Linked DNA regions of Homo sapiens: region 2 is linked to region 1. Evidence: fine-mapped expression QTL. Tissue or cell type: skeletal muscle. Region 1 holds a variant in brackets; the other region holds the start of a gene. All regions are shown on one strand. Distances are from middle to middle.

Evidence for each region. PIP is the estimated chance that this variant, and not a neighbour inherited with it, causes the effect.
Region 2: it holds the start of LINC03062, and the variant in region 1 is the best candidate, but not a certain one, in a credible set for the expression of LINC03062 in skeletal muscle (GTEx, PIP 0.78).

Annotation. Positions count from the first base shown.
Region 1 is chr9:89,612,923-89,618,289 of GRCh38, reverse strand. No RefSeq gene overlaps it. Among named protein-coding and RNA genes, the nearest start is that of GADD45G, 11 kb to the right of the region's middle. RefSeq lists an enhancer at 3,324-3,865. The variant A/T (reference allele first, on the strand shown) is at 2,458.
Region 2 is chr9:89,637,357-89,642,723 of GRCh38, reverse strand. LINC03062 (long intergenic non-protein coding RNA 3062) reads right to left here and starts at 2,941. Exons shown (of 6, transcript NR_024280.1): 1 at 2,745-2,941. RefSeq lists an enhancer at 2,629-3,198.

The sequences.
Region 1 (5,367 bases):
ACCACTCATAAACTTCCTGCTTCCCTCCTTCCAGGCACCTGGGGGTTGTGCTGCTTTGCTTTCTGATTAGGCACAACCCCAAGCCTAGCTTTGTCCAGTGATGTGGGAGAGGCAGGGACAGGTATGTGGGACTGAAGCCAAGTGCTCTGCCAAGAGCAAGCCAGCCCCATGCCTGACCTGTTCAGGGTCATGGTTCCACTCAAGTCCTCCTGCGTGCACACCAGCCAGGGCCAAGCAGAAGGAGGTGTCGCCCCAAGTTCCCACAGAGAAAGGAAGGTTCACATTCTCAGATGTGTGGTGGCTCAGAGAGCCAAGAGGATGGAGCTGATGTATTCCTGGGGACCGGGGGACTGTCACCAGCCTTGGGCTGAGGGCTGAGGGCAGAAGATACGCACAGCAGAGCCGTGGGGCAGGGGTTCCTGGCAGGAGGTAAAGTGCAGAGGGGCAAGGCACCCCTGGGGACTCAGCCGAAAGCAGGAGTGAGAGGGAAGACACACCCCTACCTCCCTCCCCACAGCCCTCTCATCTCCCACCAACACCTCTCATTGGCCAAATCCAATGAGAAGCCAGCAGGCAGGGGCCCATGGCATGTCTTCCTGGGACACGCAGTCCTGGGCGCAGACAGGACACATAGAAGGCATGGGGGAAGAGGGACACATGTTGGAGAATGATGAGTGGAAATTGGACCTCTATGCTAGATTCCAGAGTTTAGAGCTCAGTGTATTAATTGATATTTTCATTATTGAAACTTAAATCATAGCATGAAATGATATTGTTATTTTTCCCACAGATAAGGGAAGAGTGGTGAGTTAACAGGGGAAGCCTGGACTTGATTTGAAAGCCCTTCCTCACAGGCACCAGGCCCACCCCCCACTCCACCCCACCCAGCTGATTTACTCCCTGGAGGTGAGTGAGGGTCCCCTGGCCCTGCTGAGAAGCTCCTCTTTGCAAAAAGAACTTCCACAACACGTCTACCCACCCTATGGTATAACAGATGTTCCCACCTTCCAGATGTTTCAGATGAAGTGGAGAATATCTGATGGGGTGGGGGCACAGGGAAATCGAGTCCCTGGGGGCTTACTTCCCAGGAAGCAGGCAGCTGAGACTGGGTGGAGGATGTGCCGAGACACAGCCTTGTCCCCATCAGCTCTGAGAAGAAGGTGGGGAGTGCAGGCCCAGTTACAAGAGGAGGCAGACACCACAGTGTGCAGGCAGCAGTGTTCTTGTGCGGAGCCTGGTACCGTCAGGTGCCAGTGGAGGGTCCAGGGGCTGATAATGTGCCCTCACTAAGTTGCTGAATTAACCCTTATTCATGAGTATCTCTGCCTTGGAATTCATCTCGGCAATTCCTATTGCCTCTAAAAACCCTCTAAAGGCTTTTCCTAGCAAAGAGCAGTAACTCTTCCCCAAAACTGCAATGGCATAGACGATAACATTTTGTACTTTGAAGTAATTTCTCCTTGAAATGAGTTATGTAAGCTAAATGAGCCTCACACCTGATTCAGGAAAATGAGTCACAGCAAATCTCCAAAGATGGCCCCGTGGCCACCCTCCCAGGATCCCTGCTCTCAGGTGGTCTTCTCCCCTGGGTAACCCAGACCAGTGGCTCCCACTCACCCACAAAACGCAGTGGGAGTGGAACATCCCTGTGCAGGACGCTCTGGAGAGAGACCCCGTGACAAGACCGTGTGGACAGGCCCCACGGGGAGGGAGCAGCAGGGATGTCTAGCTTCCTGGCGAAGACCAGCCTCACAACCCCACCCTGTGCCTTCCATGGCACTTCCTGAGCCTCTCAGCCAGTCCGGCTCCCACATGACCACCAGGCAGCCTTGGGCAGCCTCAGGTAGAGCAAGGGAATTGCCGAGCCCAGGCCAGCTGGTCACCGGAGCTGAGAAACATCCCAATATGTGTGTGGGGGTGATTTGTTATGCAGAGGGACACAGAGAGAAGTGCCGAATTCCCTCAAGAAGCTGAGCAATTCCTGTCCCGACCTTCAGGTCAACAGATACTGCCAGGTCACCCCAGGGCCCTACGCGTCTCAGACACATTGGGACTGTTAGAAGCCCACCCTCCCCCCACGGGCAGCCCACATCTAACACAGACCCCACTCCCTGGGCTACCATGCTCTCCACCGTGGGCCATCCTACTCCTGCTTAGGCTCTGAGAACCTCTTTCTCTCTCTCTCTCTCTCCTTCCACACACACACACACCTTCCCTCTCTCCCTCTCCATTCACCCACAGAAAAAGTGTACCCTTGGGTCCTTGAATCTCTCCTACTGCAAGAGTGTGAGCCCAGGCCCCTGAGCTGGGAAAAGCAAAGGCAACACAAGCAAGCCCAGCATCTGCTCTCCAAGCGTGGGCTCCCTGCAGACCCAGCCTTAGGACAGGACTGAGGGGGTGACCGGGAGCAAACCTAGAAGATGTCCCCAGGGCAGTGACTGTCCTCAATTCTGTGCA[A/T]GAGCTCCACCTGCCTGAGTTCTGCTTCACTTTTAAAGCTCTGCCCCAGTCCATCACCCCCACCTGGCCTGTCCCCCAGGACACTCAAGCCCCTAAACACTAAGCACAGTGTGTACATCTGTTTGTTCTGATATAACCAAATACCTGAGACTGGGTAATTTATTTAAAAAAATAGAAATTTTTTTGGAAGTTCTGGAGGCTGGAAATCCAAGATCAGGGCACCAGCAGGTTCAATGTCTGGTGAGGGCTGCTCTCTGCTTCCAAAATGGCACCTCTTTGCTGCATTTTCTGGGGCCAGGAACACTGCATCCTCACATGGCAAGAGGAATAGAGGGATGAAAAAGAACCAAACTCCCTCCATCAAGCTCTTTTATAGGGCACTAATCCTTTCACCAGGGCAGAGCCCTCATGCCCTAAACTCTTCCCATTAGGCCCACCTCCCAACACCATTACACTGGGGATTATATTTCCAACACATATATTTTAGAGGACATATTCAGACTATGGCACATGGCCTCATCTAGTGGGCTTCAGCAGCTGTCCTCTGAGCCTGCAGTGACCACTGAGAAGTGCCTATGATGATAGTCCCTTGGAGGACGCAGCTGGGGGTGTACCCCTGGGCTCCTAGTTTAATCCCTGTAACCCCTACCTGATATCATTTGGGCCTCATGCCACACTGTTGACCTCATATGGGCACTGCAGGAGTCTGGTGACCAGAGGAAGCCAGCAAGTTCTGCTCAGGCCTCACTTTAGCTGCCGGGGCCCCCTTGGGGAGCTCTGAAAGTGGAATGGCCCATTTGCCTTGGAATGGGCTTCCCAGTTGTGGGGTGGTCTGCTTCTCTATCAACATAATCAAGATCAAGGCCAGGGAACCCAGCATGGACAGGCAGCTCCAGATGGCTAAGCTCCTTCCCCAGCAGAGAATGCTGCCGCCGAGGGACCCCCAGCTCCTGCAGCCCCTCTGGGTGGGCAGTTGTTTCTCCTGAGTCTTCTCCAAGCTCTTGGAGAGACTGAGCATACCCAGGGGCCTAGGGGCCACATAGAAGGAGAACAGCTGCTTGCCCCTGCTCATGACGGTGAAAGCAGAAACTCACTCACCCTCCCCTGCATGGGGACTGTGGGCATCCACACAGCCTGGCAGGACCTCAAACCCTCAGTCAGCCCAAGTGGATCATTTGGTGACATGTGGGCCACCTACCAACTCCCTGGACTTTATCTTGGTCATTGTTTCGGCCTTGCAGGGCTTGAGTGATTTGCAGACATGTCAAGACACCATGGTTTTAACTGGTCTTATGATAGCTGAGCCTAACCTGCAGTTGCAGCCTCCTTCCTGGAATGTTAGCATCAAATTCTTGCTCAACGCGGGAGTTCCATGAATTGCTTTGCTGCCGTGAATCACTCTAGGGAAATTTAATCTTGCTGCAAAAGAGGATACTTTCTCCAGAGTGTAGCTGTTCCTTTCCTTTCAATTTTGCTTTTTACTGTTGTTTCACTGTTGTTCCTTAGAATTCTATTTGTCTGAACTTTGTCATAGTGAAAACGCAACACATTTTAATTATTCTCTTGAATTTTCCCACTTGCAGAAGATAGGCTGTAAATGAGTGACCCCAATCCACCATTGCAGGGTAGGGATAACGCAAGTGTCAAAAATCGGAATCAATTCTAATGACCATGTTTCATCACTGACAGGCATGTAAACCTCAAACCAAAGCAAACTCTGAAAGCTGAAAAATGAATCATGAAACTCAGTAGCAAATCCCACCTCCCCTGGAGGTGAAGTAAAACCACATCAATGGCTCGGTATGAGATCAAGATGGTCAGTGGTTATAGGACAAGAGACCCACTTTGAGGGGGGAAAATAAAAGCTTTGACATCCTTTTAACAAGTGTTCCCATAACTGAGTGACTTTGTTCGGTCAGCCTCAGCTTTCACACAGCAAGACACAAACTTTTCCTGGATCTCATTGATCTGCCTGTCCCACATCCAGAGGCTAGACAGACAGACAAACGCGTCAACTCCTCATAATGGGAAGCCACAAGCAACAATAACAAAATGAGAGATGCTTTAACCAAAAGACTGTAGTACAAGAAAATTAGGCGAGGCAGGTCTCACTTTCCCATCTGCTTCCTTCTCTGGAGAACCGTGAATTCCATAGCTATCCTGCTTGTGTTTGGCCCATCATCTAGGCATCGGATAGCAGCCCAGAGGGGATGCTAAAAGGCCTTTGTTTCAACTTTGGACCAAAAGGCCCTGGGTCAACAAAGCCCAGACCTGATGAGGAGACCTGGACCTCACTGCAACTATGGACTCACCTCTCTGAGCCCATTTCTTTGCCTGTGAAATGAAGAATAACTAAGCTTCCCTCCAACACTAAGAATCTGTGATTTGACAGCACTTGGGAAATTTCATATAAGGGAAAAGATTTGGGGATGAAAATCAGTGATTCAGTGGCCCAGTCAGTGGCCCTTGGGTCTTTTAATCCCCAGCTGCAGGTGAGCGATAGAGGGTTGCCAATGTTCTGTAGGAATGAGCGTGCTCCAATCAGAGCCAGAGACTGGACCACAGGCACAGGCCTGCCCACCAATCCCATGGTGACCTTGGAAGGAGCCCCCTGTCCCGACACTGCCACCTGCTCTGTATAGGCCACCTCCTTAAATGCTAAGGTGGAACCCAGCTCTGGTAGGGCCCAGGGCCCGCAGGCTGACTCCTCGGCTACCTCCATGCCCAGCCCCCACATCTCCTCTCTAGGCAGACGCCCGTGCACTCCATGCATTCCACCTGCAAGCAGAGTCGCCGTTCAAGAAAACATGCAGTTCACGCAGCTGGACCAGCACGTCCAAGGCCCCGGGGTATGAAAGGGCATGATATGTCTGGAGAGAGGGAGAAGCCCTGTGGGACACAGGGAGAGGC
Region 2 (5,367 bases), 24 kb before region 1:
GCTTCTAAAACTAACCCTGAGATAATTTTATATAGCTAAACTCACACAGCCAGGAAGTGAGGGAAGGGAGAGGAGAATAGAGCCTATGGACTCCGGAGCCCCTTCCCCAGCACTCTGAGAGGTCTCCACCAAGCAGGAGATTTTGTTTTTTGTCTGGAGACAGAGTCTTACTCTATCGCCTAGGCTGGAGTATGGTAGCACAATCATGGGTCATGGCAGTCTCGGCTTCTTGTGGCTCAAATGATTCTCCCATCGCAGCATTTTGAGTAGGTGAACTACAGGCATGTGCCATGTGCCACCATGCCTGGCTAATTTTTTTTTTTTTTTTTGGTAGAGGCAGGGTCCCACTATGTTGCCCAGGCTGGTCTTAAACTGAGGTCATGTAAGCCTCCCACCTCAGCTTCCCAAAATGCTGGAATTACAAGCATGAGCCATAGTGCCTGGCCAAGATAAGATTTAATACAGCACTCTCGCTGGGTACTCAATGTTAGCCCTCATTGAGCAGGTGGTGGACAATCCCAGCCCTATCAGAGTAACAAGAAAGGAGATAAACTCTGTGAAAGCCTTCAGGGCAAGGCTGTTATCTGTAGCATCAATAACAATGGTAAATCCTGACCTGGCCTGAGCTCCTCCCAGGACCCACCAAACGCTCTCCATCCCATATCCAGCCGGGTCAAACACCCGAGGCATAATGCTGGGTGCCCTTTTGGGTGTCATTAAAGGAAGAGAAAAAATTAACTGTGAGGGTTTTAGAGACTTAAAACTCTAAAACTAAACTCTAAAACTCTAAATTTGCAGGGCAGAAGCTGCAAAATGACAGCAGGCCCAGCGCCGACGGGAAGCAAGTATGACTTTCCATGGGCCCACAAGCAGCTCTGAGGTCCTGAGCCTGGCTGGTCTGTGACTGTGGAACAGTAAGATTCAGGGTTCCAGGAGTGTGATGGCCAAGAATCCACACCACCCCTGCCCCAGGCAAAGGACTCAGCTTTCAGCTGCAAGAACTCCACAGAAGCCTATATAGGGTCTTGGAAGACAGCAGGGCGTCTGCCAACAGAGTCCCGTCTCTCTCTTCTCCTCCCCCTCACTCCTCTCTCCACTGCTTCACTGGACTTTGAAAAATATCATGGAAGGGGTCATTGGGTCTAGGGCCAAGAAAGGGGCTAAAAACCTCCATCCTGGGTAACTGTCATTAACACTAAGATCATGAAAGTCAAGATAAGCCCTCTTCTCCTTGATCCCCACCCCACCATGAGATTTGCAGGGCAAGTCTGGGAGGGAAAAGAAACGAGTCCTGATAAATGTAAATTGACAGGCACCCCTGTTCACAATCTGTTCTAGGTACAATTCCACATGGCTCCCCCAAGACAAAGATGTTCCCCTTTGATGGTGCTGTTGTCTTGGGGAGAGGCGCAGGCACATTCTGACTGGCCAGTTCTTGCTCCCTAAAATAGCCTGTGGACTATGCCCTCCTCGGGGTCGGGAGGCGGGACAAACAGCTCCTCTCCAGCCCACCCTCATGCTCCCACTCTGTTCTCCTCACTGACCTGGCCACAGGCTCTTCCACCCCAAAGGAACCCATAGTATCTCAGGAGCTCTGCCCTGAGCAGTCTCCTGCTAGGGAGGGCTGGGAAACAGGCCCTCACCGCCAGAGCATGCGACACAGCCTGTGAGATGGTGACAGTGGGTCCGGCTTTTTCGCTCAAGTTGACCAGGGCTTATGCTCCTGCAATGCCAGGTCAAAAGCACAGCCACCAAGTTCTCCTCCAAAGGCCCGACTCCTTTGGAACTCACTTCCTGGGGGGGTCAGAACAGAGTGTACCCCTACCCCGAGTCCTGGCACAGGGACACGGCCATATAACCTGGAGACTCTTCCTGCTACAGCCAGGAAGGCACCTCCTGCCACCAGGAGCCGGGGCTGGAGAGGGCTGGGCTGCCTGCCTGGCTCACACCAGGGGTGGTGTGGCTAGGAAGGAAGAGGGGAATCTCAGGCCTGTCTGGAGCACCTTGGGGATGGAGTCATAGGGGAGGGTCTAGACAGTGGCTATTCATTGCTTCTCCTTCCGGCGCTGCAGAAACTTCCTCCTCAGTCTGAGTTGGGCAGGGCCCACTCGCGTCCGCCTTCGAATCCCTTTCCTGCTGGTCAAAGGCAACCCCTCTGACTCTACCAGAGAGGGCCGGAAATCCAGCTGCCCACAACATATCCTGCCATGGCCTCCACAGAGCGCATGGAGCCCGGGGAGGCTGAACAGGAAAGGCAGAAGTGAGATCCCATCCCACCAGGACAGCAGATTCGGTGCCTTGCATGATGGCAGCTGACTGTGGTGGGTGCGTCATTTCAGGGGCCCACAATGGGCCTTTGGTGCCTCCCAGGAGCCCAAGGTGGCAGTGACTGCACACAGCCAGCTAAGAACGTGTCTGTCTGTGATGTGGTACCCACCAGGCAGGGATGTGGGGCTGAGGCACAGTCTCTGCTCCTTTGTGCAGGGGTGGGACTGCCTGATAGATGTGTTTTTCCCACTGCCCCCACTCTAGCCAACAGCCCGGAGAAGGGGAAGTTTGACGTCACTCATCCCCCACGGATGGCAGTAGCCAGAAGGCAGGGGCCCTGGGGCCACCAAAGGCAAAAGCCCACCAACAGACCCTTGGTTATGATGAGGGTCAAGTGGAGCACATCTTACCAGTGTGTCCCAGAGACCCACGCTCCTCCCAAGATAACACCCAGACTGAGAGCCCACTTCACCTACCCCAGCTTCTCTCAGGGACTCCAATCTGGGACTCTTGGGGTTGGGAGGCTGCATCCTCTGCTGTGGTGGGCCCAGGCTCGGGTCTCACAGGTGCTCCAGACCCATCCTCCTTCCCCCCAGAGCCAGGATGGGGATCCAAAAAGCCAGGAAAGCCAGGGACAGGAACAGGGAAGCCACCGGGAGGAGAAAGGAAAGACAGAGGGGCGGAGACCAGCAGCTGCTCTTTGAATGAAGAGAAAGCATTTCAGGCAGCCAAACAGAATGTCAGCAAACCTCAGAAGTAATTCACTCCCCCAAGCCCAGACTTATGGGGTTCCCACTGGTGCACCAGGCGCGGGCCAGGCCGACCCGGAACATTCAGTACAAATGCTGGGCTGCCAGCTCGTCCCTAAAATAAGACTCCAGCTGTTGGCCATGGAACTGCTTGGAAAGTAGAGCTCCCTGGGACAGGAAAGGAGCCCTGCAGGGCAGAGAAGCAAAGCTGGGGGAAGTGAGGCCTGCTCCCCTGTGGCAGAGGTTGGATGCGAGAGCCGTGTGACTGCTGCCAAGAGCTGCTGGCGTGCGGCCCCGGGGTAGCTGCAGGAAGGCACGCTGACGCTGGAGCCATCCTGCCATTCCCACAACAGTTTCTTCTGAAATCGACATCCTTCTTTTCCTGCACTTTGACCCCCACCTGATCTTGGCAAGGGTCTTTGGGCCACACAAGGCAGGCTAGTGTAGGGGTCCCTTTCCCCCTTCTTCAACATCCTGGCCCTTGAAGGAGTGAAGCTGGGGCCCCAGGAGCCACACTGCGGGGACCAGTCCCTGAGCAGGCAAGCAGGCTAATTCACATGGGCTGCAGAGGAAGGTGAGGGAGGCAAGGAGCAGGCCCAGATTCCTCAGCAGGGCTGAAAATATCCATTAGTGATGAACCAAGCTCACACTTCCGGGCGAGTATGAGTGCAGGGGTATTAAATGTCATGAGATGCTTTGAAACGAAAAAGAAGTTAACTTGAGACTTCTGCCTCTGTGTTGCCATCCATGTACAGAGGAAGTAAGACGCTAGCAGGTCCTCCAAGAGGGTATCCACCTGTACCTCATTCCTCCACCCCACACTATTGGGTGAATATGTAACAAGCGCACTTCTTGCTCTCATCAACGAAACAATGAATATTTGTGAGTCTTTCCTACAAGGCCAGCACTGTCCTAAGCACTTTCTCTGCATTTCCTTCTTTGAGCCTCATGGTAATCCTAAGAGGTAAGCACTGTTATTATCCTCGCTGTGCAGATGAAGAAACTGAGGCAGGGAGACGTGACATAGCTAGTCCCAGGCCAGGCAGCTGGTAATAGGGGTCTGGCTGGAGACTCTGTGTCGTCTGCCTTGCCCATGCTACCCCAGGTGGTGGCAGCTGCTCAGAGCCATCCACACAGTGCACACTTGCCAGTTCATTCTATGGAGCCCACACTTCTCCACGAGGAATGAAGAGGGATGCTGCAAGGAGGGGCAGGGGGAGGTCATAACTGGGATGATTGAGGCTTCAGAAAGTCCCTGGGCACATCCCAGCCTACCTGCTCCTCCTCTTCCAGGGTCAATGTGTGGTCTCGAACAGGTTGGCAAGAGCTCAGGACTTGGGGCTGGGGCTCCTCGCCTTTAAGATGGAGCAAGCTGGCTGTGACTTGTGTTGAATTCACTCCTACAGTGCAAGAATTCTTCCAGGACAAAACAAGAGCCTGCCCCTGGAGTCTGCATTTTAGCAGAGCAGGGAGTGCTGGATCACCAGGACACCATACAGAAGTAAGTCCTGCAGAGATGCAGTCTGGAACAAGGCTGTGAAGAGTCAGCAAGCCCAGTGGTGTCCAGAGTGGATGCCGGGTCTCAGGGGGACCCTGCCCAGAGGTCCTGGGGAGCTGAGTGGCAGACAGGGAGGTGGGAAGCGGAGCAGAGGAGCAGGTCTTGATCACAGAGCTCCAGGCCCTCTGAGGGGGTGGGTGAGTCACCTGAGGCTGGATTTCCACACACAGAGCTCGGCCAGTGAGGCACAGCCCACAGGAAGAGACACAAAGGGAAGCCCCACCTGGTGCACACGCTTGTATGGACAAGGCTGCTTATCCCACACCCCAGAGCCCCCCTGGTACCTGCCCGTCCATGGGCCATGGTTCTGGACTGACTTGGATTCATGATGCCCACCTAGTTCAGATTTAGAGGATGGCACGTCCTAACACCTTCACTGGCTGGGCCCAAAGGCATGAAGCCTATGTGGACAATAGGGAGGGGTGGGGTGCTTGGAAAACTGGAAGCTGTGGGCCCAGCAGAAGACAGGTTTGAAACACAGGTATCTGTTGTTAAACTTGTCTGGGATCTGAGTCCTGACCCCCAGCCCCTGGTGAAGCTTCCAGCTTTGTGGAAGATCAATTTGAACCCAGTTCAAACCACCTCTACTGAGATAACTGAAAAAGACTTGAGGCAGTGACAGGCCAGGGACAGGATGCATGCGGAGATGGACTTCTGGTGCAGATGATGGGCCTGGCCACAGAGAAGAGTCCTGCGAGGCTTCTGCTAACCTGGGAGGGGATGAGGCAAACACCTGCTCCAAATGAAAAGACATCCAGACACACAGTCCCAGACACACAGCTCTATAGACAC